2 separate regions of the Homo sapiens genome follow, and region 1 is reported to be linked to region 2. Evidence: microRNA targets listed by miRTarBase, many of them from high-throughput screens and not tested one by one. Region 2 holds a microRNA gene; the other region holds the end of a gene's coding sequence.

What was found. Region 2 holds the annotated microRNA hsa-miR-6765-3p (UCACCUGGCUGGCCCGCCCAG, at 1,798-1,818, opposite strand). A microRNA usually pairs through its seed, bases 2 to 8, with sites in the 3' UTR of a target mRNA and lowers its output. Matches are read on the target gene's strand: a 7mer-m8 pairs with bases 2 to 8, a 7mer-A1 pairs with bases 2 to 7 and ends in A, and an 8mer does both.
Region 1: the mRNA of GTPBP3 is a reported target of hsa-miR-6765-3p. Seed matches in the 3' UTR shown: 7mer-A1 at 796-802.

Annotation. Positions count from the first base shown.
Region 1 is chr19:17,341,230-17,344,229 of GRCh38, forward strand. GTPBP3 (GTP binding protein 3, mitochondrial) reads left to right here. Exons shown (of 9, transcript NM_032620.4): 8 at 1-93; 9 at 249-1,502. The coding sequence ends at 474. Among named protein-coding and RNA genes, the nearest start is that of GTPBP3, 5.2 kb to the left of the region's middle.
Region 2 is chr14:105,148,981-105,152,492 of GRCh38, forward strand. It overlaps MIR6765 (microRNA 6765), which reads right to left and starts at 1,884; the gene lies at 1,798-1,884. It overlaps JAG2 (jagged canonical Notch ligand 2), which reads right to left. Exons shown (of 26, transcript NM_002226.5): 6 at 3,181-3,311; 7 at 2,958-3,077; 8 at 2,646-2,759; 9 at 2,303-2,416; 10 at 2,011-2,124; 11 at 1,885-1,931; 12 at 1,624-1,797; 13 at 190-340; 14 at 1-109.

The sequences.
Region 1 (3,000 bases), not on the chromosome of region 2:
TCCTGACCTGCCCCCGCACCTGCTGCTGTCCTGTCTGACGGGAGAGGGGCTGGACGGCCTCCTGGAGGCGCTGAGGAAGGAGCTAGCTGCAGTGTGAGCCCCCTCCCACTCCCAGCCTCCCCTGACCCACAGTTTAAGTGTGGGTCCCTCAACTTCAATTTCTGAACCTACAAAATGGGTACAACCATTTCCCCTTCAAGGGATGGTTGTAAAAGGTCGGGAGAGACCATGTCTCTTGTCTCTTCCAGGTGTGGGGACCCGTCCACAGATCCCCCGCTGCTGACCCGAGCAAGGCACCAGCACCACCTCCAGGGTTGCCTGGATGCCCTCGGCCACTACAAGCAGTCAAAAGACCTGGCCCTGGCGGCAGAGGCGCTGCGGGTGGCCCGGGGTCACCTGACCCGGCTCACAGGTGGAGGGGGTACCGAGGAGATCCTGGACATCATCTTCCAGGACTTCTGTGTGGGCAAGTGACGGGATCCAGGGAAGTCGCACCCAAGCTGCGTGGAGACCCAGGAGCCTCGGGGGATCTGGAAACAGTTTAGGCCAATTGGGATTCTCATTCGCCTGGGAAAGAACTTGATTCTCAAATAGTGAAGCAACACAGCTGAGAGGTAGTGAGATCCCTGCAGGGACTCCCTGGAGATTCAGGCCCTGGAATGGGGCTGAATGGAGGTCCCGTTCGACCCTTGATGCTGGGGCATCCGGGTTGGGATGGAGATAGGAGGATCTCAGTATATTTGTTTCGTAGTTTTTTATTTATTTTGCAAATACCAAAGGAATGTAAAAAAAACTCAGGTGATCTAGAAGTGTTTATTTTCTTCCCTTCCCTTCCCTTCCCTTTCCTTTTCCCTTTCCCTTTCCCCTTCCCCTTCCCCTTCCCCTTCCCCTACCCTTCCCTCCTCTGTCTATTGCCCAGGCTGGAGTGCAGTGGTGCGACCTTGGCTCACTGCAACCTCCATCTCCGGGGCTCAAGCGCTTCTCCTGCCTCAGCCTCCTGAGTAGCTGGGATTACAGGCATGTGCCAGCATGCCCGGCTAATTTTTTTCTTTTTTTGAGACAGAGTCTCGCTCTGTCACCCAGGCTGGAGTTCAGTGGTGCGACCTCGGCTTACTGCAACCTCCACCTCCCGGGTTCAAGTGATTCTCCTGCCTCAGCCTCTTGAGTAGCTGGGACTACAGGCGCACACCACCACGCCAGGCTAATTTTTGTATTTTTAGTAGAGACAAGGTTTCACCATGTTGACCAGGCTGGTCTTGAACTCCTTGACCTCAGGTAATCTGCCTACCTTGGCCTCCCAAAGTGCTGGGATCACAGGCGTGAGCTATCACACCTGGCCCCAGAAGTGTTTCAACATGGAAATTTTCCTTAGCCCTTCTGTGGTTGTCATGGCTTAATGTGTGTCTTTCCAGAACTTTGAATGTTTGCATACTTGTGGATGTACCTTTCAAATATGTTTGTCTTGTGTATCATATATAAATGGTATTGTGTTCATTGCTCTACAAATTGTCATTTCTTTTTAAAAAAAAAACAGAATTATGGAGATGGGGGGTCTCACTATGTTGCCCAGGCTGGTCTTGAGCTCTTGGACTCAAGCCATCCTGCTGTCTTGGCCTCCCAAAGTGCTGGGATTACAGGTGTGAGCCACGGTGCCTGGCCTCATTCCTTTTTTAGTCTTTAGTCTTCTTTTTTTTTTTTTTTTTTTTTGATGGGGTTTCACTGTGTTAGCCAGGCTGGTCTTGATCTCCTGACCTTGTGATCTGCCCACCTGTGGCCTCCCAAAGTGTGTGTGTGTGTGTGTGTGTGTGTGTGTGTGTGTGTGTGTGTGTGACAGAGTCTTGCTCTGTTGCCCAGACTGAAGTGCAGTGGTGTGATCTCAGCTCACTGCAGCCTCTGCCTCCTGAGCTCAAGCCATTCTCGTGCCTCAGCCTCCCGAGCAGCTGGGATCATAGGTGTACCCTACCACACCTGGCTAACTTTTGTATTTTTAGTAGAGATGGGTATTTGTCATGTTGCCCAGGCTGGTCTCAAGCTCCTGGCCTCAAAAGATCTGCCCGTCTTGTCCTCCCAAAGTGCTGGGGTTACAGGCGTGAGCCACCACACCCACCTTTTTTTTTTTTTTTTTTTTTTTAGATGGAGTCTCACTCTGTTGCCCGGCCTGGAGTGCAGTGGCGCAATCTCGGCTCACTGCAAGCTCCGCCTCCCGGGTTCATGCTATTCTCCTGCCTCAGCCTCTGAATAGCTGGGACTACAGGCGCCCGCCACCATGCCTGGCTAATTTTTTGTATTTTTAGTAGAGACAGGGTTTCACCGTGTTAGCCAGGATAGTCTTGAGACCCTGACCTTGCACTACCATATCCCATGTCTGGCTAATTTCTTATTTTTTATAGAGATGGGGTCTCCCTATATTGCCCAGGCTGGCCTTGAACTCGTGGACTCAAGCGATCCTCCCACCCCAGCCTCCCAAACTGCTGAGATTACAGGTGTGAGCCACCACACCAGGACAACCTCTTGTATCTTAAAAATGACTGGCAAGGCCGGGCGCAGTGGCTCATGCTGATAATCCCAGCACTTTGGGAGGCCATAGGTGGGCGGATCACGAGGTCAGGAGATCGAGACCAGCCTGGCTAACACGGTGAAACCCCATCTCTACTAAAAATACAAAAAATTAGCTGGGCATGGTGGCATGCGCCTATAGTCCCAGCTATCGGGAGGCTGAGTCAGGAGAATTGCTTGAACCCGGGAAGCAGAGGTTGCAGTGAGCCGAGACCGTGCCACTGCACTCCAGCCTGGGCGACAGAGGGAGAGTCCGACTCCGTCTCAAAACAAATAAACAAACAAACAAAAATCTGACTGGCAAAACCTAGGGGTCTTTCTCCCTCTATAAGCTGAATCTTTATTCATTCATTCATTCACTCACTCCGTGAATATTCATCAAACTCCTGCATCCAGCATTGTACACATCATTTTATTGAATCTTCACCACAGCACGATGTTGTG
Region 2 (3,512 bases):
GAAAAGTTGCCCCCTGGCTGGCTGACGCAGCGTCCATGGGGGCCACACACGCCGGAGGCTGCTGTGCCAGGCATCCCAGGCCCCGCGTCTGACCCGCAGCCATCGATCACTATGGCAGGCAGTACAGTCAGGAGTCAGGCCCGCCCCTGCCCCACCACCTCCCCCACCACCCCATGCCGCACCCAGCACCTCTGCAGGCCCCGCCAGGGCACGGCTCGCGGGGCACGGAGCAGTTCTTGCCACCAAAGTCATCAGGGCAGGCGCAGTAATAGTCACCCTCCAGGTTATAGCAGCGAGCGCCGTTCCGGCAGGGGCTTGGCTCACAAAGGTCGACATCCACCTGCAGGGTGGGGGGTGCCTGTGAGAGCCTAGGCCCAGGCCCAGGCCGGGAACACAGGCCAGGCCTCTGTCCATACGAAGGTAGATCCCTGGGGACCCCCAGGCCCCTCCGCCCTGGGCCTAACAGTGCCAGCCAGAGCCCAAGACCCCTGCCCACCTGAGACTGCCCAGGCCTTAGCTGAACGCAGATACCTGTGGGCCCCCACCCCCACCTCCACTGCAGCCCAGCTTCCTCACTGTCCCTCGGGAGGAGTGTGGCCTTGGCCCCTGCTGCTGGCAGGAAGGACAGCTCCTGAGCCCCTCACACACTGCCTGGCCACCCTCAGAGCCAAGACTGTGGGTCTTTTCCAGGGCCAGCCACTGCCATGCTTGCAGGTCCTGAGGTCAGACCCCTGCCCTGGGCCCCAAGAAGCCCTCTGGACAGGAGGCCCATCCTCTGCACCAAGGCCAGGGCAGGATCGTGGGCGGCCGAGGGTGGTAGGGAGGTGGGTGGGGGGAGGCAGGGAAAAAGGGGAAGTAAGGGGAGGGGGTGGTAGGGAGGCAGGTAATGGGGAGGCAGGGTTGGGGGAGGTGGGGAAGGGGGTGGTAGGGAGGTGGGTGGGGGGAGGCAGGGTTGGGGGAGGTGGGGAAGGGGGTGGTAGGGAGGTGGGTGGGGGGAGGCAGGGTTGGGGGAGGTAGGGGAGGGGTGATAGTGAGGTGGGTGGGGGGAGGCAGGGTTGGGGGAGGTGGGGAAGGGGGAGGTGGGGAAGGGGGTGGTAGGGGTGGTGGGGAAGGGGGAAGGCAGGTTACTTTGGAGGCAGGGGGGAAGGGGAGGTTGGGGGAGGGGGTCCAGTACCAACAGATGGTCAGAGGGAGGCGAGAGCATCAGCCCTGAGAGAGATGCCCACTCCGACCCAGGACTCACCTATGACAGGTGTATACCTCTCCACCATCAGGCACCCACCCTACCCCATGTGCTCTGCCCACCAGAGCCCCCTGCCCTCCAGTCCCGAGGGAGTGCACAGATGGACAGATAGGCCTGGGCAGCCAGCAGCCCGGGGGCTCCTAGCCCAGGCCACCAGGAAACCCATCACAACAAGCAATGGCCACAGGGGGCCAAGCCTGGTGACCTGTGACAGCCCCGCCTGCCCACCTGGCACCCAGTGGAGAGCTGAGCCTGGGACGCCTTGGGGACAACTTCCCCTGCAGCACCCCTGGGTCACTCAGGCCCCATGGTCAGGGGACGAGGCCTGCCCTACAGCTCCCAGAGCAGCAGGTGGGGCAGGGTGACCAGGCAGACCTCACCTCACAGAGAGGCCCGGAGAAGCCCTGGGGGCAGTGGCAGTGGAAGCCGTCGGCCAGGTCCTCGCAGAGGCCGCCGCTGTGGCAGGGGCTGCTGGCACACTCGTCTCGTTCCAGCTCGCAATGCCGGCCTCCGAAGCCCCGTGGGCACACACACTGGTACCCGTTCACCAGGTCCTGGGCGGGCCAGCCAGGTGAGCGTCCCGCAGGCACCCTGACGGCCCCGCAGCACCCACGCCACACACCCTCCTGGCCCCGCCTCACCTTGCAGGTGCCCCCATGCTGACACTGCCCGCGACAGTCGTTGACGTCTGGGGGCAGAGGAGCAGGGTCAGAGGCGGGGTCCCATGTGCCTCGGCCCACCCGCCGGCGCCCACCCCCCATACTGACTGATATGGCAGTTGATGCCCTTCCAGCCCGGGATGCAATCACAGTAATAGCCGCCAATCAGGTTTTTGCAAGAAAAAGCGTTAAGGCATGGCTTCCCTTCACACTCATTGGCGTCTGTGAAAGAGACAAGGTGGGAGCCGTGGGGCTCGGGCCCTGCCTGCCCCCTGCAGCACGGGCACCTGGCACCCGCAGCCCAGCAGCCCCAGCAGCCCCAGCAGCCCCCGCAGCCCCAGCAGCCCCCGCAGCCCGCATGCGCGGCCCACGTTCCCATGCACTCGCTCGGAGCCCTTACCCAGCTGGCAGGTGGCCCCCACCCACTGCTCGGGGCAGATGCACTCAAAGCCGTCCACCTGGTCCACACAGGTGCCACCGGCCGCACACGGGTTCGAAGCACACTCATCGATGTCTGCAGAGGGTGGAGAAAGGTGGGGCCCTGGCAGTGTGAGCCGTGGGAATAAGGTCCCCATGGGCAGGTGGCGCTGCAAGCCTGGGTCTTCCTGCCATTTGTCCTCGCCAAGCCAGCCGCAGCCACACGTGTGGACTTGACCACTGCACCCCATCCCCAGCGAGTTGCCCCACTCCCAGACCCCCACTGATACTAGGCAGGAGTCCCCTACTCACGTGCAGACACTCACCAAGGGCACAGGTGGGCCCGCTCCAGCCCGATGGGCAGTGGCATTCGAAGCCGGACGGCACCTCATGGCAAGAGCCCCCGTTGGCACACGGGTTGGAGGTGCAGGCGTGCTCAGCTGTAGAACCGCGGGGAGGGGGCAGAGCTGGCAGCCAGGCCCCCAGCTTTCCACAAGCACTCCTCCCCAAGCCCACAGGTTCCCAAGCTGGGGGTCAGGGGCCCACCACACAGGACGCCAGAGGGATGGGGCCTGACCGGCTCCCCAGGGAACCAGTCCCTGCCTGGCCAGAATTTGGGTGGCCAGCCCCCCACGTACCCTTCTCACAGTTCCTGCCCGAGTAGCCGTCAGGGCAGGTGCAGCGGTACTGGTCAGGCTCGGCGTTGATGCACGTGCCTCCGTTGGTGCAGGGGTGGTGGCTGCCACAGTAGTTCAGGTCTGGGGGCAGGGGTGGGATGCTCAGGGGAAAAGCCGGCCCCCCGCTCCCCCACAACCCACACTTCGATGGCAGAGCATTAGGCCTGCCGCCCCCTACCACTACCTTTGTCACAGAGCAGGCCGCCCCAGTTGGTCTCACAGTTGCACTGCCAGGGCTCCACACAACTGCCATGCACGCAGCCGGGGTAGGGGACACACTCATCGCAGAACCTCCCTTGCCAGCCGTAGCTGCACCTGGGGGAAGGAGGAGGGGCGCAAGACCCAGTGAGCTGTGGTGCCTGAAAGGGTGGCAGGGGAGCCAGGCACAGTCACCCACGCCACACCCAGGGCCGGCGGGCGGCCTCAGGCCTTTGAACTGGAGCAGCCCCAGCCAGGCAGGGGTTGCAGCCCTGCCGGCCAGCCCCACTGTCACGGGCATTCCCGGCCGCTGGCTGC